Regions from separate parts of the Homo sapiens genome. Here all the other regions are linked to region 2. The links come from fine-mapping of genetic effects on gene expression. A gene starts in region 2. Each other region holds a variant in brackets. All regions are shown on one strand. Distances are between the middles of the regions.

Region 1 (2,753 bases), 73 kb before region 2:
CCACATGGTCTCTCTTTTTATTTATTTATTTATCTTTTTGAGATGGAGTCTCACTCTGTCACCCAGGCTGGAGTGCAATGGTGCAATCTTGGCTCACTGCAACCTCTGTCTCCCAGGTTCAAGCGATTCTCTCGCCTCAGCCTCCCAAGTAGCTGAAATTACAGGCACCTGCCATCATGCCTGGCTAATTTTTGTATTGCTGTAGAGACAAAGTTTCACCGTACTGGCCAGGCTGGTCTCGAACTCTTGACCTCAGGTGATCCACCCGCCTCGGCCTCCCAAAGTGCTGGGATTACAGGTGTGAGCCACCACGCTCGGCCTTATATGATCTCTTTTAAAACTACTCAATTCTGCTGTGGTGGCAAAAAAGCCACCATACATAAATGGACATGGCTGTATTCCAATAAAACTTTATTTACAAAAAACAGGGAGCTGGACAGATGTGGCCCGCAGGATGTAGCTTGCTGGCCTTCTTTGAATTCTTTCTATTCTCCTTTTAGGTAATGGGTTTCCCATATTAATTACATTGTCCTGACACTGGGAGGGCCAGAGAACTAATATTTACTTGGCACTGATTTCGTGCCAGGCTCTGGGCTAGGTGCTCTGACCTGTTAGCATATTGAATGTGGCAAGCACCTCTTGTTGAGACGTTAGTTACAGACTCTCTTTGTTTAATAGGGGATAAACTGAGGCTCACAGATGCTGACTTGCCTCAGAGACCCCTGAGCAGTAGAGCTGGGATTTAGACCCATTCCACAGGCTTCACTGTTCTGCCACACTATGGCTCTTCAGATCAGTTTGGATCATGTGCAGTGGATTCTCACCACAGACATGTGGCAGGGGGCACTTCATCCCTTCCCCCACGGATATTTGGGAGCCTGCTGAAGCTACAAAAAAATGAGCCCATCAGTTCCTCAAGTTCATTGGGACTTCCGGCATTATCAAGTCCTGTTCCCCAAACTCACCAATAACCACCATCAGCGCCCACATTATCTCTCTGACTTCATCCAAAGCAGGTCCTGTGACTTCTAACAGCACCCCGAGGCAATGAATGACTTAACCAATCACACAGGAGCAAACAGAATTCCATTGACCAATCAGGGTAGAGTTACCGGCCCAGAACCCCATCCACAATTCTCTCCACCAATAGGACATGGTCCTGCCTTTCAGGAATTGGTCACTCCTGGTGAAAAGCCAAGAGCACAGGACAGAGTCCAGGGAGGATTCCTGATTCTAGAACAAAAACCCCAACCGCAGTCAGCCTGCTACAGGAAAGAGCGCAAGGCTTCCACCCACGTGCTGTCTGCAGATGTCTGACTTTCGTGGCGGTGGGATCCTGGGTGCTGGGCTGAGACCACCTACCTGAGGAGACAGGCCGTTGCTGACCGGGTTCATGTGGTTGGAGGGCGCCGCCGGATTCATGAAGCTGTCAGAGTAGCTGGAGAAGCTGTGGCGGGCTCCGTAGGCAGAGCTGGTGTCGGCGGCTGCAGCCGCTGCAGCCAGCCCGCCCTGGTGCATGGTGGACGGTGGCAGGGGCTGAGGCCGGTGCACAGTGCTGCCCCCATCTGTAGAGAGACCCAAGAGAGGTCCTAAGCAAGTGGCCTCATCCTGGACGCTGGGCCTCTGAGAGCAGAAGGCAAGCCAAGAGACTCCTCCTCCCGGTCTC[C/T]ATTCCTTGGAGGGAAGGGACCACCCTCTCATGCTACCTGGGATGAGACAAGTTGGCTCCTGGGCAGGGCAGTAGGCACTGGCCAGGTCTTGACTGACAACCCAACATTCTAGACAACCCCTAGACAGGTGCACACCAGCCACTGTTCCTCAGTGCTTGGCACACAGTAGGTGCTCAATAAATGTCAGCTGGGCTGAAAACCAGACCTTGATGGGGACTCTGTTAATCTACCCAGTCTGTTTTGTTTTGTGAGCGTCAACCACTTGCCAGGTGCTTTTACAAACGCTGCCTAAGGGTATGAAGCAAGACTGTAAATCCCATTTTACAGATGAAGAAACCAAGGCTTGGTGGGCTTGGGGCACTCACACAAGATGACCAGGCTAGTGAGTGATGGGACCAGGATTTGAATGGCCTAACTCTGGAGCCATCTCTGTTCTTTGCTGCTAGGCTGTTATTCTGCGCTCTCTGGGCCCTTCTGTGCAGCTTTGCAGAGGCTGGGACCCTCAACACTGGTTCAATTTATCTTACCAAGTCACAGTGGTGCTGGAGGGGGCTCTTTGACTCTTTCCTTGGCCTCCAGAACTCCAGCCTGCCAGTCATTTAAGAGGAGGCTTTATGAGGTAGCTATCTTTTTTAAAATTTAATTTTTTTTTTGAGATGGAGTCTCACTCTGTCGCCCAGGCTGGAGTGCAGTGGCGCGATCTGGGCTCCGTGCAACCTCCGCCTCCCGGGTTCAAGCGATTCCCCTGCCTCAGCCTCCTGAGTAGCTGGGATTACAGATGCACGCCACCATGCCCAGATAATTTTTTTTTTTTGTATTTTTAGTAGAGATGGAGTTTCACATGTTGGCCAGGCTGGTCTCCAACTCCTGGCCTCAAGAGATCCGCCCGCCTCAGCCTCCCAAAGTGCTGGGATTGCAGTTGTGAGCCACTGCGCCCAGCCCATGAGGCCAATATCAAGTAGTGGTATTCCTGGTGTGTGCTGGGACAGGGCTTCTGGGGTGACAGAATGAGAGCAAGTTCCGGTGAGGTAGGGGGAGGGAACCCTTCTTCCCCTACAAGGCTCACCTTCTCTCCTGAGACCCAGA
Region 2 (2,753 bases):
GCAGCCAGCGAGCCAGGAGAGCCGAGAAACTGTCAGGGAAGAAGTGTCTGGAAATAGTGGAAAGAGCTGAAATTCACCAGGACCTGATATTTACTAGGAGTCCAAATCTACCAGAATTTCAGCCCTGCGGGTAAAGACCGGCAGCTAGCGACCTGCGAAACGAAGGCCGCCGGGCAGTGAAACCCACGCAGAAGCGGACAAGTATGGGTCCCAGAAACTCCCTGGGTTCCGCGCCCGGACTGGGACCCAGAAGAGAACGGGATCCCTCTGCTATCGCCGGCGCCGCCACCGTCCCCTGGAGACCGCAGCCTCTCCAAGGACCCCGAGTTCCGGGCGGCGGAGTCGCGGCGAGGCCAGCCTGGGCGTTCTTACCTTCCAAAGGGAATCCCGTGCGGGGGTAGTTCTGCCCCGGAGCCGGCCGCATCATTCTCGGTACCGTGCCGGGAAGGGCCGCCATTCTTGCGCACGCCGGGGACGAATCCAAAGTCGGCAAAAATCGCTTCCCGTCCGCTCCCTTCACCCCTGCTGCGATCTCTTTCTTTCCGTCTTCTTCGTCTTCTTTTTTTTAACCTCTTCTCCCTCCCCTCCACACACACTCCCTACCCCCACCCCCCACCCCTGGCTGCAGTCAAACGCGTCCAGAAGCTGGGGAGGGGGGTGAGGTGGGGTGGAGGTTGGGGGGAGGGAAGGTGGCGACGACGAGGAAGTTCAAACAAACAAACACTCCAACCCCAAGTCCGCCTCTGCCGGCTGGCCTCGGCCAGAAGTTGTGCGGGCTGATGCGCCTGGCAGAACCCGGAGACCAGGCCCCGCGGCGGAGGGGGGCCGGGGGAACGCGGCCGGAATCGAGGCCGCCAGCCTCAGAGTGGCGAGCGCCGCGCTCTCGCGCTCTGGCGCTCTGGCGCTCGGGGCCAAAGTTTCCGAGCCCGGAGACTGCGGAGTGGATTTCGTTCTCGTATTTATTTATATATTTATTCTCTCGCTCTCGCTCCCTCCCTCTTCTCCACGCCTTCTTTCTCCGGACCACACTCGCTTCTCCCTCCACACCAGCTTTCACAGCCCCGTCCCCTAGGAGACCCGGGGACAGACGGAAGAAGGAGCCTCCTCGGGTTTCAGGGCTGGACGGAGGAGACAGGGGGTGACGGGGTTGGGGAAAGAGAAATGGAAAAGCGAGGGGGCGCGAGTGATCAGCTGGGTAAGTTGTGCAAAAGTGTTCACCGAAGTACGAGGAGGAGGAGGAGGAGGAGGAGGAGGAGGCAGTGAGCGCGATCTGATAGGTTCGGACTTTTCTTTTATTCATGAGGAGGGAAGGGGGCCAGGGCGCAAGGGAGCGGAGGACCAATAACGAAAAGAAATCGCCAACGAATATTTTTTTCCCTCTTTTCTAATCCCCGGCTCGACCTCGTTTTGGGGGAGAATTTGAACCGCCGTGAAAAGAGAGGGAGCCGATCCCGGCGAGTTGGGGGCTGGGGGAGAAGGGGAGGGGGCCAACTTTGTCCCAGTGCCTTCCTTTGATGAATGGGCCGGATCCGCCGAGTCCCCGGCCCCCAGGTCGCCCACGGCTGCTCTCGGAGTCCCGGCTGTATGGGAATGTCTGCCTCGGGTCCGGCGCCTCTCTGGAGTCTCGCCTTTTCTCTGGCCTCCGAGGGCCAGAGTCCGCCCTATTTCTCATCTTCTCCCTCGTCTTACACCCTCTGAAATTCCTCCAGTGAGGCTCCCCGGGAACCGGCCTAGGGTGACTTGAAGGGAGGAATTCTGACCTTTTCTGTGTAATGTCAGAGCCCCGGTGTCCGGTTCTTACTCTACCTTCCTGCCGCTCTGAGAAGCCCCCAGTAACCGTATCTGGTTCCGAGGCTTGGCAAAGTGGGTCTGCCAAGTGCTAGGCACAGGTTTCTTCCTCCCCTTCCAGTTCCGCCCCGTGCAGACGTCTCCAGCCGCCGCCGTCCTCCTCAGGCCCCCAGGCCGGGCCTATAACTCCTTTCCAGCAGGTAGTTGGGTTTACAGGGAGTTGGTGCTGGTGTGAGGATCTGGGGGCCCAAAGAGGTGGGAAATGGGAGGGAGGGAGCCCGTCAAGACTTGATACAGCTCTGAACTCACCAACTCTGAGCTCCTTGCTGGTGGGTTTGAGGGGACGCCCCAACTGAATGATCAGGAGTCAGGGTGGGGTGATCAGAGGTTCCTGAATTCTTCGCTTTCTGAAGCCAGGGTGACCAGTAGCCTCAACCTCGGGACACCGAGTCCTGGGGGCGAAACGCCCTCCCAGCGGGGCAGGACGCCACAACTGCAGGCCTTTTGTCTCCCGGGGGAAAGAGCGTCTCTGGCCCCACGCTGGAGGCAAAATACAATAAAATGAACCCAGCCCTCAATCTCACCCCCTGCCCGCCCTCTCTCGGCAGTGGGGTCAGCCTTGTCTTAGCCTGGGGCGCTCACCGCTGGCTGGCCCCAGGGTGTCCCCATCCCTCCCCTTCGCCTCACCTGTGACCTTTGCCCCTTGCAGCATGTGACAGATCTCCCTCCTCTCCCCACTCTCCTAGCACAAGGGGCTCATCAGATTTTGGGGGGGCCTTCTGGGAATGGGGGCCCTGATGAAAAACTTGTTGAGCTCATACTCTCTCTAACTGAGAAGACAGATGCCAAGTAGCTTTCGAATTGGAAGGGGGACACCGGGGTACTTTGCCTGGCCCAAGTTATGGGGCCCTCCCCCGGGAGAGATTGGGAGATCAAGCTTTAAGCCATAGCATGTGTGCCCAGGG
Region 3 (2,753 bases), 69 kb before region 2:
TCCCACCTGGCTGCTCTGTGTCAGGGCCAAGAATTTCAAGGGCAGGATTGCATCTTTTTGCTCTCAATAGCCTGCTTACATGAAAGTAAGAAATGGTCATAAAAAAAAGAAGAGCCTTTGTAAGTGAAAGTAAAGAAAGAAGGGAAGGGGCACCACTGAGATGGCAGGACGGGGCCAAGACACTCACCTTGGGAGATGGTGGTGGTGGGGTAGGTGGAGTCCGGCAGCTGGTAGGGGGGCAGCGTGGGCATGCCGGTGGGTGGGAAGCCTCCTGGCAGAAGGTGGTTGAACGCCGCCAGCTGGTTGGCTCCTGCCTGCTTACGCCAACGGGCGCGGCGGTTACTGAACCAGACCTGGGAGGTGGAGAGCAGAGAATGGAGACCCCTCGGCCAGGTTCCTGGCAGAGAGCTGCAACACATGTAGACCCAGTTGCCCAAGCCATCACCCTCTGATCCAGCCAGCATCCTCCTGCAGGCCCCGGCATTGTGCAGCACAGGACGCTTTGCAGAGTGATTTCATAGGTATGACCCCATTCTGCCCTCACAACCACCAGTGAGGGGGTTCTATATTATCCCCATTTTACAGATGAGGAAACCAAGACCCAAAGAAAGTGGGTGACTTGTCCATGGGCCAGGTTGAGTCAGTGGTCCAGCCAGTCCTGTGTGGCTCTCAGGCCAGTGCTCTTTCCTCTGCAGCTGCTCCTTCCTGGAGGGATGCTGGTGCCCTGCTTGACCACCTCCTCCAGGAAGCCCCCCAGGAGGAAGCCACGCATCTGCAACCCACCTGAATGAGACCTGCACTTCAGACCCAGATGTGCAAGCCGGGTTCTTTCTCTGGAGACTGAGGCCCTACTTTGCTTACACACCCTGGGCCTCCTTGAAATAGGAAACACACACACACACACACACACACACACACACACACACACGGATTTATCAAACATTAGTGGGATAATAACCCAACATTTTTGTCTCCCCTTCCTGTGCTGGCACTTCACGTATCAATCCATACATAGACCCATGAGACGTATTCTCCTATTCCCATTTTACAGAAGGGGAAACCAAGGCTCACAGAGGTCAAGTTGCTTGCCCAAGTCCACACAGCTAGTCTGTGTTGGAGCTGAGGTTCAAACTTAAAATCAGTCTGGCCGGGCGCAGCGGCTCACACCTGTAATCCCAGCACTTTGGGAGGCCGAGGCGGGCGGATCACGAGGTCAGGAGATTGAGACCATCCTGGCTAATAAGGTGAAACCCTGTCTCTACTAAAAATACAAAAAAATTAGCCGGGCATGGTGGTGGGCGCCTGTAGTCCCAGCTAGTCGGGAGGCTGAGGCAGGAGAATGGCGTGAACCCGGGAGGCAGAGCTTGCAGTGAGCTGAGATCACGCCACTGCACTCCAGCCTGGGCGACAAGCGAGACTCTGCCTCAAAAAAAAAAAAAAA[T/AT]CAGTCTGGCTTTCTAGAGCCCACTTATCTGGATTTGCAAGTTTCCTGGGACAGGTCAGAGAAAGAGGAGAATGAGGGTGCACACTGGGGCTGCCTTGAGGGGGCTCTTTTCCACCTTCAGCTTTGCACATGCTGTTCCCTCTCCCCTGAACACTCTTCCTGCAGCTGGCTCTTTGGCCTTCAGAGCTCAGCTGAAATGCTTCCTCCTACTCCTACTCCTTAATTGCCGCATCTAAGGTGGGTTCAGGTAGGTTCTCTGCCTTCTGTCAGGTGGGCCTCCTACCTGTGTGCTTCCCCACAGGATCAATGATTCTATATATCTGTTTCTTGGCTGTGCTGCTCCTAATGTCCCCCTCAGACTCAGGCTCCACGGGACAGAGGCCATGCATTCCTTGCCCAATGCCTGGAGCTCAGTAAGTGTTCAAGGAATACTTGTTGAATGAATGAAGGAGTGAATGACGAATGAATGAATGAACAAGGGGAGGCAGGATTGGCACTGGGGTGCCTTTGCTGGGGCTGGGGCTACAAGGCTTGGTTGGTGTTCCATCCTGATGGGGGGTGAAGGCCGCCACCTCCCCTGGCACCTGATCACCCAAGACCCCCAAATCTCTGGGCCGTGTCTGCTGAGATGGGGGAGGGGAATGCAGCCAGGTGGAGGGCGCTTATGCACCCCTAGAGCCATCCTTCCCGGGTGGGAAAAGCAGCGTTCAGCTTGCAGGCTGGATAAACAAGAGCTGCCGGCTTTCACCTGTTGAGGTTTCACAGAGAAAGGGAGAGGAGGCAGCCAAGCCTGGAGGAAAAACGACTGGCTCCCGATGGATTCAAAGCCCTGGCTTCTCCCCACTTCCACAGGGCGCCGAGGGTTTCCCCGGGGCACCCTGGAGTGGCAGGGATGCTGGAGGGAGCCCTGCAAGGAATGGCCTTGCCTCCGAGCTTCCAGGCTCTGCGGGAAGGGTGTGAGGAGGTCTTTGTACTAATTCAGTGTTTCCCAAACAGTGGGCCTCCTGCCACTGCTCCCTGTTGGAGAAACAGAATTCAATAACCTGGACATGAGGATGGGAAAGTTATTCCATTCCACTTCTCTCCCAGGCCTCCTGGGCATGGAGAAGGGGGGAAGAGGGGTCTCAGTTTGGTGCTAATGCATCCTCAGTGCCTTTCTAACCTGTGCCAATCTCCCTTCTGAATGCAGGGAGAGGAGGCGTTTGCAGGTGACATTTTCCTGAAAGGCTTTAATCATGTTGTTTTGTTTTCCTTTGTGTGTAGTGTGTGTGTGTGTGTGTGTGTGTGTGTGTATTTTAACAATTGCCTTCCC

Which allele goes with the higher level. Alleles are on the strand shown, and positions count from the first base shown. SD is a standard deviation of normalised expression in the study named.
For the expression in prefrontal cortex of the gene that starts at base 1,215 in region 2, T is the high allele of the variant in region 1 and C is the other (moderate effect, 0.42 SD a copy in BrainSeq).
In carriers of allele AT in region 3, the expression in prefrontal cortex of the gene that starts at base 1,215 in region 2 tends to be lower than with T alone (small effect, 0.36 SD a copy in CommonMind).

Evidence for each region.
Region 1: its variant is fine-mapped to the expression of PAX7 in prefrontal cortex (BrainSeq, PIP 0.95).
Region 3: its variant is fine-mapped to the expression of PAX7 in prefrontal cortex (CommonMind, PIP 0.95).

Annotation. Positions count from the first base shown.
Region 1 is chr1:18,701,906-18,704,658 of GRCh38, reverse strand. PAX7 (paired box 7) reads right to left here. Exons shown (of 9, transcript NM_001135254.2): 7 at 1,363-1,565. Among named protein-coding and RNA genes, the nearest start is that of PAX7, 72 kb to the right of the region's middle. The variant C/T (reference allele first, on the strand shown) is at 1,667.
Region 2 is chr1:18,629,308-18,632,060 of GRCh38, reverse strand. PAX7 (paired box 7) reads right to left here and starts at 1,215. Exons shown (of 9, transcript NM_001135254.2): 1 at 373-1,215. The coding sequence starts at 457. RefSeq lists promoters at 432-708, 432-1,342, 746-1,531.
Region 3 is chr1:18,698,253-18,701,005 of GRCh38, reverse strand. It overlaps PAX7 (paired box 7), which reads right to left. Exons shown (of 9, transcript NM_001135254.2): 6 at 188-353. Among named protein-coding and RNA genes, the nearest start is that of PAX7, 69 kb to the right of the region's middle. The variant T/AT (reference allele first, on the strand shown) is at 1,442.